3 linked regions of the Homo sapiens genome follow. The protein of the gene in region 3 interacts with the protein of the main gene of each other region in a biochemical or structural test. Each region holds a gene or a part of one and is shown on either strand. Other genes may lie near its edges.

Evidence for each region.
Region 1: the proteins of PACSIN1 (region 3) and HTT form a complex in vitro, tested with the Homo sapiens proteins (2 studies listed by BioGRID and IntAct).
Region 2: the proteins of PACSIN1 (region 3) and WASL form a complex in vitro, tested with the Homo sapiens proteins (one study listed by BioGRID).

Annotation. Positions count from the first base shown.
Region 1 is NC_000004.12:3,238,681-3,242,498, reverse strand, and holds part of HTT (huntingtin), read right to left. Parts: intron 3,682-3,818; coding exon 3,521-3,681; intron 2,654-3,520; coding exon 2,440-2,653; 3' UTR 1-2,439.
Region 2 is NC_000007.14:123,747,031-123,750,848, reverse strand, and holds the start of WASL (actin nucleation-promoting factor WASL), read left to right. Parts: upstream 1-1,845; 5' UTR 1,846-2,114; coding exon 2,115-2,231; intron 2,232-3,818. UniProt on the Homo sapiens protein: Regulates actin polymerization by stimulating the actin-nucleating activity of the Arp2/3 complex. Involved in various processes, such as mitosis and cytokinesis, via its role in the regulation of actin polymerization.
Region 3 is NC_000006.12:34,464,229-34,467,828, reverse strand, and holds the start of PACSIN1 (protein kinase C and casein kinase substrate in neurons protein 1), read right to left. Parts: upstream 1,754-3,600; 5' UTR 1,559-1,753; intron 1-1,558. UniProt on the Homo sapiens protein: Plays a role in the reorganization of the microtubule cytoskeleton via its interaction with MAPT; this decreases microtubule stability and inhibits MAPT-induced microtubule polymerization.

The sequences.
Region 1 (3,818 bases), on a different chromosome or scaffold from region 3:
TCAACTTCCAGGAAGAACCGACACGGGCACTCTTAGAGGCCATGCATCTCCGTCTTGAGAGGTGTGTGTGTAAAATTATAGATGTGTCTATATGCACATGCATGGATACTTTATGTATATGCGTGGGTGAAGTCATTTTTACTAATGAGCTCATATTCATCTCCGGAGCACACAGGCAGGTCTTTGGGGGTGGGGGACACCTACTGCCAGAGCGGGGTGTTCTGAGCCCCTTGCTAAGGACTGGTTTAGATCACGTCGTAAACAAGAGGAAGACAAACTCTATGTTGAGCCCAGCGATATGCATTCCAAGGGAATGGCTCTGTTTTACATTCACAGTGTTATTTCTTACAAATGTAAACATCTAGCCAGGAACAACATCTGGCCTGTGATACTGCTGTCTCAGAGCTGCTGACATAACCTGCGGGGGAGGCGGGAGGCGGGTGGGGAGCAGCCAACAGTTCTGAGAACTTTCCCCTCGTTCCCAAACCTTCTAGCGGGCTTTCCAGGAAAAAGCTAGGATGAGAAACAGGAGCCCCCAACCAATACGGAATGGTGATTTTCTTACGTGTTATAATTCAGTAGCTTCCCTTAAGGGCCTCCTCAAACATCGGACCCCTTTCTACCGCTCCTGCTGCCCCGCCACGAGGACGAGGTGGTCCTGGCTGGGGGAGGCCTCTGTTGGGAGCTGGTGGGAAAAGCCTCATACAGGCCTGGCAGAGGCTGCTCAGAGGAGGGGCTCCCTTTCAGCTCCCCCTCACGTATGTGGGCAGCATACAAGTCCACATCTCAGCTGCTCCCCAGCTGCCACATAGGAGAGGGACAGGTGGAAGCTTGGGGGTCTCAAGGCAGCACCTGCACAGAGTTCCAACATTTCCTCCACTTACCACATTCAATACCCAAAACATCGACGGGCATGACCAAACCAAGCCACATGACAGTCGCCAACCTTGCCTGGCTCGCCTCTAGGGCTGAGGAAGCAGAGCCCCTGCCTCGTCTCACAGCCAGTCGGCAAGCAGAGCTCCCAAATCCAGCTCCTACATCAGCAGCAGCCCGGCCATCCAGAATCCACTTCCATTTTAATGACTTGGCTCCTCTGGGCCTGCAAACAGGAGGCTGGTCCAGGGACCTGGCCTGGGGATAGGAGTGGCGGCTCTGACAGGGCCGTGGGGCAGTCTCCGATGAGCACAGATCTGCACTCTCCTGACTAAAAGGGGTCACCGTGCAAGATGTCAGCTGGAACGGGGGCAGAAGGGATGCTGGGCTCTGTCACTAACAGTGCCAAGACACCAAGCTTTGCTGTTGACCGAGAGAGGCTCAGACAAAACACAGCTCAGTGACACTCTTAGGGCATGCATCCATGGAGCAGCAGGTCCCAACACCTGCCAGCCAGCTCCTAGGCAGACGCCACCCCAGGGCTAGCAAGGAACAGGAGTGGGAGGCCCATGTCTCTGGACACAGTGGAGGCTGCTCACAGCCAGGGAGGGCTGGCCTTCTCAGCTGAGTGACAGGGAGGCTGCTGTCCCTGACTGGTGGGTGGAGAACGACAGTCGTCTGTGCCCGAGGAGGAGGGGCTGCAGGTGAGCGCACCCCTAGGATAATGGGGGCCTGTCCTCAGTCCTGCTGTGGCCACCTGCCCACTAACGCCTCTCTACATCCCAGTCACCTTGTGAATGCATAAACAGGAACATGTACAACGGAAATGTCAGCGGGTGCTCAGGAGGGCTATGCCAGTGGCTACAGGAGAGGGAGCGTGGCCGGGGGCCCTGTCCACCACCCCGGACGCTGTCGCATGCAGCACAGGCCTTGCGATTCACATACTTTACACGGGCATAGAAAGAGTTACGTTAAAATTAATCTCTTTACTGATATAATTAAATTTTAAATCCTGAGAAGAAAAGAGAGAAGGGAGAATGGTGCCGGGTGTCTAGCACCCCCAGCCACTGGCCCAGCACAGGCCATGGCATCTGTGCATCCAGACACGGGGCGTGGCATGCACACCCCACCAGGGAGACCCAGGCCAGTGTTCCCAAAGCCTGCTCACGGCACCTTCTACTGCAGGACAGCAGAGGGGCCAACAGCCAGCCTGCAGGAGGGAGGACTTCTGGCCCAGATGCAAGAGCAGCTGCAACCTGGCAACAACCAGCAGGTGACTATCAGGAGAAAGGACCTGGTCACCCACATGGGGTGCAGCACAGCTGCTCCTGCTTTCTGGAAGGCCTCAGGCTCAGCCCCACCAGGACTGCAGACACTCCCTGCCTGGCCACTGCCACAAAGAGCACTTCTGCCACATGGCAGAGACACGCACGTTGCCTGGCCGCCCGCGGCATGTGCGGAAGCCCATAGGGACCAAGCTGGCTCGGTGGAGGCAGGGCACAAGGGCGCAGACTTCCAAAGGCTCCGGCCCCAGCTGCCGCCTCACAGTCTCTCCCACCATGGCGCTCAGCAGGTGGTGACCTTGTGGACATTTCGTAAACAAGTCAGCAGCCGGTGATATGGGCTTCCTGGGGCTGCAACCACCTCAAGCACAGACTGGAAGGCCCTGCGGTCGAGCTCCTCCTCTATCTGGTGTCTGTAGAAGTCTGTGGCGACCAGGCAGAAAAGGTTCACGTCCACCTGCTCCAGCTTGCCCATCCTGCTGATGACATGTGGGAGGCTGGTGCAGGAGTTAAGGAAAAAGGCCGGCAAATGAGGGGAATGCTGCCTCCCTGTCCTCACCTGGGAGTTCCTCTCCTGAAACAGTCTACAAAGGGGTCCAGGGAGCCTGGAGAGCGAGCAGAGCCCCGGAAGGGCCACCTGGATGCCTCCAGCTGCATCAGCGCCTCCACCTCCATTCCTGCAACCCTTGGCTGGCTGGATGCCCTGCAGGCAGGGCACCCACTCGGCAGCACTCACCTGGCCTGGCTCCTGTGCAGCGCTGGTGGCCGGTGCTTCCGCTGGCCTCCACTAGCCCTGCTCCAATGCAGTGAGGGCAGAGCCGTGCCAGGCACGCCGGGCAAGGCTGTGCTGTCAGCACCAGGACAACTGTGCTGCTTGGAGGCTCTTGTGGTCTGTCTTGGGGAAGGGCTGTGGAAAGGGAAACTCCTGGCAGCCAGCATCTGGGGGTGGGAACTGGATCTTTACTTAAGCCTTTCCCCGAGAGGGCGATCGAGGCACAATGACCAAAGCTAATGAGAAGCAGTGTCAGGAGAAGCCCAGCCACACAGAGCCCGCGAGTGGGCGGGACGTCTGCAGAGACCACCGCCCACCCTCGCTCCCCTCACCCAGGCCCTCCACAGAAAGGCCCCTCAGCTGCGACCCTCCTGCCATACACCGGCCCCTCTGAGAGGCCCTGGTCAGCAAATGTCTGGACGTGCTCCTTTCTGTACCCCTGTCAGCATTTTACTTCCCTGGGGCTGAGGGCCTGTCACCCTGGCATCTGTGGGGTTTTTGCAAAGGTTAGGTTTCAAAACCTTATCATGAAACATGAGCCTCGGTGTTGACAAGGGAAACGGGGCCAGCACCAGGGACCCAGAGAGGATACATCGCCGCGACCCACGGGCTGGTGGACGCGCTGACAAAGAAGCAGGAGAGGCTCCACGTGGCCATGGCGACCGGGGCCCTCTGCGTGAAGTTGGAGAGGGACAGCATGACCCAGTCCCGGACCATGGACGACTGCCCGGTGCTGTGCAGAGTCTGAAACACCTGCAAGGAGCAAGCAGGTGCCTGAGTGTCAGGGCTGGGGGGACGGGAAGCACCTGCTGCGCCTGGGTGGCGGGGGTGGGGTGGGGGCCAGAGGCATTGCTGCTTTAAAGCGGAGGAGCTGGGCTCTGCTGGCGAAT
Region 2 (3,818 bases), on a different chromosome or scaffold from region 3:
AGCATATCTATCATCTCAAAAACTTATGTCTTTGTTTTGGGAACATGCAATATCCTTCTTCTAGCTATTTGAAACTATACAATATTGTTAACTATAGTCATCCTACAGTGCTACAGAACACTAGAACTTATACCTCCTATCTAGTTGTAATTGTGTATTTTACAACTTTGAAGTAGGTGTAATTATCCCTATTTAGACTATACCTGTATGAAACAGAAATTATTTTCATTTTACAGATGAGGAAACAGACGCAGAGAAGTAATTTGTCCAAAGTCCATAGGGTTGTAAGACTCATAACAAGAACTACAACTTGGGCCTATCTGAATCTTATACTTCTGGTACTATACTTGTTCACAGGTTTGAAAAGAGCTTTAATTTCTATTATTTCTCAAGAATTTGTAATGCTTTCTCTTGTCACTGTGCTTTCAACTTAGAGGAGTTGCAGTTTTGATAAAAGACAAACTGATTTAGCTTCTAGGTTTGTTAAATATGTAATTCAGAGGCAACTCCAGGCTTATATTTCTACGACTGCTTTCTAAATCTAATTATTTTATAAATAGTCCTGTTGCTTTAATTCACTTTTTACCCTAACATAATTAATCAAGTTTAACTTTGAAATCTCCATATTTTATGTGAGAACTCCCAAGGCTATCCACTTTTATTTTCCTTTGTAAATTTATTGTTGCTCAGCCTATTTCATTAATGGCAGCTTTAATTATAATATTTTATTATATTTTCAAAGTGCATGATAATGGTTTACCAGTCTGGTTAGTACATCAGAGATTTCTATTGGGAGCTATCAGAGATGTTAACATCCAACAATTTTACCAAAGTGTAATTGTTATAGACGTCTTAACATGAATTTACGCAACAAAAATATGTTTAATGTGGAGAACAGTGAGATGCATATTTGATAATTCACTGCAGTCTGCATCATCATCTCTATATTCCAAAATTTCGTCTTAAGCCGTTTAGTATTTAACTTACAGAAGAAAGGGGGTTATCTTAGATAACTTTTAATATCCTAAGGTATTTTCCAATTCACGATACAGGGAGAAAAGAAATGTGTCCAGGCCCTTAGAAGAAAATACTTTGAATTTAAATGTGACACATACATTAAACCCGCGTGACACGCCAGGCAGGCGGTGGAAGTCAAGTGCATTTGTTTTTGTTTCATCCACCAGGGCGATCTCTTTCACAATTCTGGGAGAGGCCTGTTTGTTCCTCCACTCCCACAGCTGAAGTTTGGGACAAAGTTTGAGAAAATCCCAGGCACCTGCGGCTCCTATCGAAGCCGGCGAGGAGCACAGGGTAGAGCGTCTCTTCCCAGTTTTCAGTCTTCAGATCGCAGGCCTCTCGGACCCGCAGAGCGAGCTTCACGCTGCAGCGCTTGAGAAATAAGAGCTATTCCAAGGAGGGGCCCTGGGTCCTCACTGACGCTTCGCAAAGGTGTACGTCCGCCCAGGGAAGGCCGGCGGCGCAGCGACGGCGAGGAGTCCCCATCCATCTTCTCTTCAAGCAGCAGTAGCTGGGTTCGGGTACCCAACCGACGAGCCGAGACGCCAGAGGCCAGAGTACGAAGTTGGAAGCCTGCGCCCCAAGCCAACCGGGATTCCACTTAGCTCCGCGCGGTCCGCGCCTCGGCCGGAAGGGGGCGTGGCTTCGGGCCCGCGCCGCGAGGCCCGCCGCCGAGTGGGGGGGTTTCTCCCGGGCCGCAGCCGCGCGTTTCCGGCGCGCTCCCCCGCGCCCTCCGTCCTGTGGTCTCGCCCGCCCCCGCTGCCATGTTGGATTGTGCGGCCGCCGCCGCCGCTGCGGGAGGGTTGGGGGAGGAGTTGGGAGTTTAGCGCAGTCGCCGGAGTGCGAGGACAACGACCATCCGGCCCTAGCCTGGCCGGGCGGGTGCCGGGAGCTTCCCTTTCTCAGCGCGGCGCGAAGGTGGCTCGCCGTCAGCGCCTGCTTCCCTCGACCTCGTCCTCCTCCCCGCTCCGGAGGAGCTGCGAGATGTGGCGCCTCTGACTCCACTTCTCCCCGCCCCTGTCACCGAGAGGGGGAACGAGCTCTCGCCCACTCGCCGGAGGAGACGGCCCTGGACTCCCAACCCCGCCGGCGAAACCATGAGCTCCGTCCAGCAGCAGCCGCCGCCGCCGCGGAGGGTCACCAACGTGGGGTCCCTGTTGCTCACCCCGCAGGAGAACGAGTCCCTCTTCACTTTCCTCGGCAAGAAATGTGTGGTCAGTGGACGAGACCCGCGTCGCCACCCGTGACATTACCTCACGGGCCCGGGCTTGGGGGCCGGGAAGTGGGAGTGGGGAAGGAGGCGGGAGCGGCGCGGGCCAGGCCTCCCGCCAGCCCCGGCCCCGGCCCCGGCCCCTCGTCGGCGCCCTCGCCCTGCTCCCAGGGTGCGGGCCGTGGCGGTCGGGCGCCGCCTTCCCGAGCTGCTGGAGAATAAGGGAGTGTCACCTCCGCAGGCCTGTCCTCCAGCCTGGCCGGGCCTCGGCCCGCGCCCTTGCTGCTGGTTAAAACTTTATTCTCAGGCCACAAGGGGATTTTCTTGCAAGAGCCGCTTGGTCCTAGAATCTGGGCCCTTGTTCTAGCTCTCGCTTCACCTCTTACTGCTTGATCTGGGGGTACGTTCCTTAACAATGCCAGGTTTGAGGAGTGGATAGGTCGGGGAAGGAAGGTGGTTTTTAATCTCCCATTAGGATTCCAGGAGGGAATGAAGTCGAGTGCAAGAGCCTGGGCTCTCTTCGGATTAGAGAGGGTGCAAGAAATGTTATTGCTCTTCGTTAAAGAGAAACAAGATTTATTTCTCTAGCAACCTTGCCTAGGCCTGGTTTCTACTCTCCTTCCCACTGATTTTTTTTTTCCCCCCATTGGTGGGAGGGGGTGCTGCTCTCCCCGCAGCCATGCGCAGGGAAACCTCAATCTCTGGTAGCTCTTGGCTTTTGGGGCCGAGAATGATTCTTAGTTTGGTGCTGTGCGGCCAATTCCAACCCCAGATGGCCGGTTGGGAGCGAGCAGTTCTGCTGTGGGAAGGGGAATGTGTGTTGTTGACGGAAGCATTCATTACATTGGCTGCTGGCAATTCTGGGGGTGGGGAGGTTCTGCTCTGTGGTGTAGGCCTTGTCGGGATCATACTGCGGTGACTGGGTTGAAGTGTGGTTTGTTGAAATACTGGCTGGATCCCTTTCTCTCCACTTTGCTAGCACCTGCAGAGTATGTGCCACTGGAACCCAGAAAACACGGAAATTTCAACAAAGCAATACCATTTTATAACTCCTTTAAGTAATATTAGGTATGCCAAACCAGATTTCACCTGCTTCTTTAAGAAGTTAGGATTAGACAATTTCTGGAAAGTTATTGGATTCATTGTTAACTTCATAGGAGTCCACCCTTTGTATCTTGTGCCATCCGGTTGGAGATTGAATCGTTCCATTCAATTTCAGATGTGTTTCATATTTCGGAATTTAGACCTTAGAGAACATTGAGTTTCCTGATTAGAAGGATGAAACAAGAGGAGTGGCTCAAAACGAGAATTTTGGGTAACAACTTTAAGCCCCTCCCCATTCACACACACTTTTTTCAACAAATGAGAAAACTGATCCAGTGAGCCCAAGTCATACAGCAATTTAATAATGTAACCAGAACTAGAAAACCAGGACTCCTCACACCTAGTCCTATCCCATTGTACTTTGCACTACATCATGTTGTTTTAGAAGGGTATTTTTTTTTCCTGTTACTGATTTATTTCTAAAAGTGGTGTTAAAGAAATAACCACTTTGCCTTTTTCACCAAAAACTAATTAAAATACAAGATTC
Region 3 (3,600 bases):
CCTAGCACTTTGAGAGGCCAAGGTGGGCAGATCACCTGAGGTCAGGAGTTCGAGACCAGCCTGACCAACATGGAGAAACCCCGTCTCTACTAAAAATATAAAATTAGCCGGGTGTGGTGGTGCATGCCTGTAATTCCAGCTACTCAGGAGGCTGAGGCAGGAGAATCGCTTGAACCCGGGAGGCAGAGGTTGCGGTGAGCTGAGATCGTGCCATTGCACTCCAGCCTGGGCAACAAGAGCGAAACTCTCTCTCAAAAAAAAAAAAAAAAAAAAAAGGAAGGGCCTACTAAAGAGAACCACCTGGTTTGAGTGGAGTGGCTCTTTGGTCCTGGGGAATAGAGAGAAAGCCCAAGAAGGGGCTCGACCCCCTCCCTCAGGTTGCCAGCTATTTCCCAGAGTTTACATTCACTCATTCAATAAGTCATGCATTCCACAAGATATTTTCTTGGTGCCAAACCCTGCTTTGGTGCAGGGGCAATGACAGAGATGAATCAGATTCCCAGCCTGAAGGTACTTCTGGTCTAGAAGGAGATGAACAAGACAAATAACCCAGCCACAAGGCAGTCCAAGAACATAGGGCAGGGGGCAAGGATCTCACCTGGGGTATCAGGGAAGCTGCTGGAGGGTGATGATTTGGACTTGTGATAGAAAGGCCAGGATGGAGGATGGAAGCAAAATCACTGACAGACAGTCCTGTTTGCACCCCAGCTGTGCCAGGGGCTGGGGCAATGTGGGTTATTTATGGTTGTGCCTAGAAATAAGCGGCCATATGTGTCACTGCCTATGTGGTGCAGACCTGGGCTGTTGTGGGTAGGGGCAGCTGGGGCTTGAAGCTGGGTCTGGCCAAGCTCCCGGGTTTGCCACCATGTCTCCTACACCCTGATGACCCTTTAACCTTTTCATAGCCTCTTGTAAGGTGAAAATAAGGGGCAGAGGCAGCTCCAACAGGCAGCAAGTGGCCTGGGGCTTGCAGGGGAGGGCAGTGCCCAGCAGCCCATGGCTTCTGTATCTGCGGGGCCTTTTAGCATTATCGCCTCCTTCTTGCCTCCTCCCCCCTCCCCGCTCCCATCCCAGCTGTGGGGGAAGGGGTAGGGGACAGAAGGAAATACCTTTAACCATAAGCCAGACAGGCATCAGCTGCTGTGTTTCTCCCCAGCCCACTCTGATCCATAAATAGCCTATGCACCAAGCTGGCACCAGCCCACCCACCCCTTCTGGTAGCAGTCCAGAGACCCGGACCGCCCGGGCCCAGGCCCCAGCTTCCCAAGGAACCTATTTCCGGCGCTTTTCCTGGGGTAAGGGCCTCCGATGCCAGCTCGCTCCCCCAAGGGACCCAGCGCAGTGGCATCCTGGCACTGCCTGGGTGATGCCCGCGAACTCCGTCCCCTGAAGGCATCCCCGAACGCGCACCCGCTTCTCTCCAGGCAACTGCCCAACCCTGCCCGGGCTCTGGCCCAGGGAGATGTCAGTCCCGGCGCCCACTTCCAACACGCACTCCCTAACTGGACACCCGCACACACAACCCCCCCGCCCTCTATTCAAGGGCCAGACCTCCTACCTGGGGGCAGGAGCTCCGGGGACCATCGGCGGCGACTCGGGGCGAAGCGGGACGTCTGGGGCCCGGCCTCAAGCCCGGCCGACTTCCCGGGGGAGGAGGGGGCTGGCGCTGCCGCCGCCACCGCGTCGCTCTGGGATCTCGCCGGGGCTGCGGGAAGGAGGAAGGTCAGAGCTGAGGCGGAGAGGGGGGAAGGATGAGGAGGAGGCGTGCACCGAGCAGAGCAGATTAGAGAGGCATTTTTAGCGAGCCAATGGTAGCGCGGGCAGGGCGGCGCGGTGGCTGCGCAGGTGGACGCGCCGCGGCTGCCGGGGAGGCAGCAACCAGTTTGGCAGGCGCCGGGGGTGGCGGGTGGCGGGTGGCGGGTGGGGTCCGGCTCCCCGCTGCTTCAGCCGACCCCTGCCCCAGCAGTCTTGCCTGGCTCCCTCTTCTGGGGGCTGCCCGCGGCCCCGCGCGTGCCGGGAGCCCTCCGGTGCGCCCTCCTCCCCAGCCCTCCCAGCTGGCGCGCTCGGAGCCCGGGATGTTGCTCCCTGCCTCTCTCCCCATCTCCCCATCGCCTTGGCCTTTCCTCCTCTCCCGAGCCTCGGCGTCCCTTGGTGCGTGCGGGTGCCTGTGTGGTGGGTGTGTTGAAGACGTGCGTGTGAGCTGACTTGGGAGCGACACCCCCTGCACCACCGCCCCACTGATGCCCACCCCTGCCCGCAGCTTCTGCCCTGTGACCCCATGGGGCGGGATCGCTAACCCTCATGTCCTAGTTCCAGCAGGACCGGCTGTCGCCAAAGCAAACTCCAGGCCATGTCGTTGGAGCTCTCTAGGGGGCTTGGGGCCTAATAGGGGACCCTCAACGGCCTTCACTCTTCCGAACTTGAGCCCTGAATGCTGCCTGGAGCCTGGACGCTGCAGGGAGGAGCGGGGCACATACCTATTGAAGGCCTGTTCTGTATCAGGCACTGATGAGGGGCTGGGCTGCAGCAGAGGACAGAACAGACCAAAACTCTGCCATCTCATAGTTCACATGTGTGAGGGAAGATAGATACTCAATATCAGCAGCTAAGAGTGTTTTGTTTGGTTTTTGTTGTTGTTGTTTTGTTTTGTTTTGAGACGGAGTTTCGCTCTTGTTGCCCAGGCTGGAGTGCAATGGCACGATCTCGGCTCACCACAACCTCCGCCTCCCGGGTTCAAGCGATTCTCCTGCCTCAGCCTCCCGAGTAGCTGGGACTACAGGCGCGAGTCACCACACCCAACTAATTTTGTATTTTTAGTAGAGATGGGGTTTCTCCATGTTGGTCAGGCTGGTCTCGAACTCCCGCCCTCAGGTGATCTGCCCGCCTTGGCCTCCCAAAGTGCTGAGATTACAGGCGTGAACCACTGCGCCGGGCCAAGAGTGTATTTTAAAGTGGTATGCACAGAGTAGAAAAATAAAGCGGGAGCCAAGAGCGGTGGCTCACGCCTGTAATCCCAGCACTTTGGGAGGCCGAGGCGGGCGGAACACGAGGTCAGGAGATCGAGACCATCCTGGCTAAAACGGTGGAACCCGGTCTCTACTAAAACAAAAAATTAGCCGGGCGTGGTCGCGGGCCCCTGTAGTCCCAGCTACTCTGGAGGCTGAGGCAGGAGAATGGCGTGAACCCGGTAGGCGGAGCTTGCAGTGAGCCGAGATGGCGCCACTGCACTCCAGCCTGGGCGACAGAGCGAAACTCCATCTCAAAAAAAAAAAGGAAAGAAAAGAAAAAAATAAATAAATAAAAATAAAAATAAAGCCGGAGGAAGGGAAAAGAAGTGAGATTGCTCAGGACCAGAATGGGTCCCTGCCCTTTACATGTGTAGGGATTGCGGGGTGGGGGTGGTGGCTGAATTTGAATGTGAGCCCCTCAGGTAGGCATGCAGACTCTAGTTTGCCACAGAGCTCCCTATTGTTTGAGCCTGGGATAATCACATGTTTATATTTCCTGACTTCCCTCTCCACACACTTCACGAGAGGCACTGAAATTCATGCCCCAGTGACCCAGGGCAATGCCTGAATGCAGTATTTATTCGTGCAATAA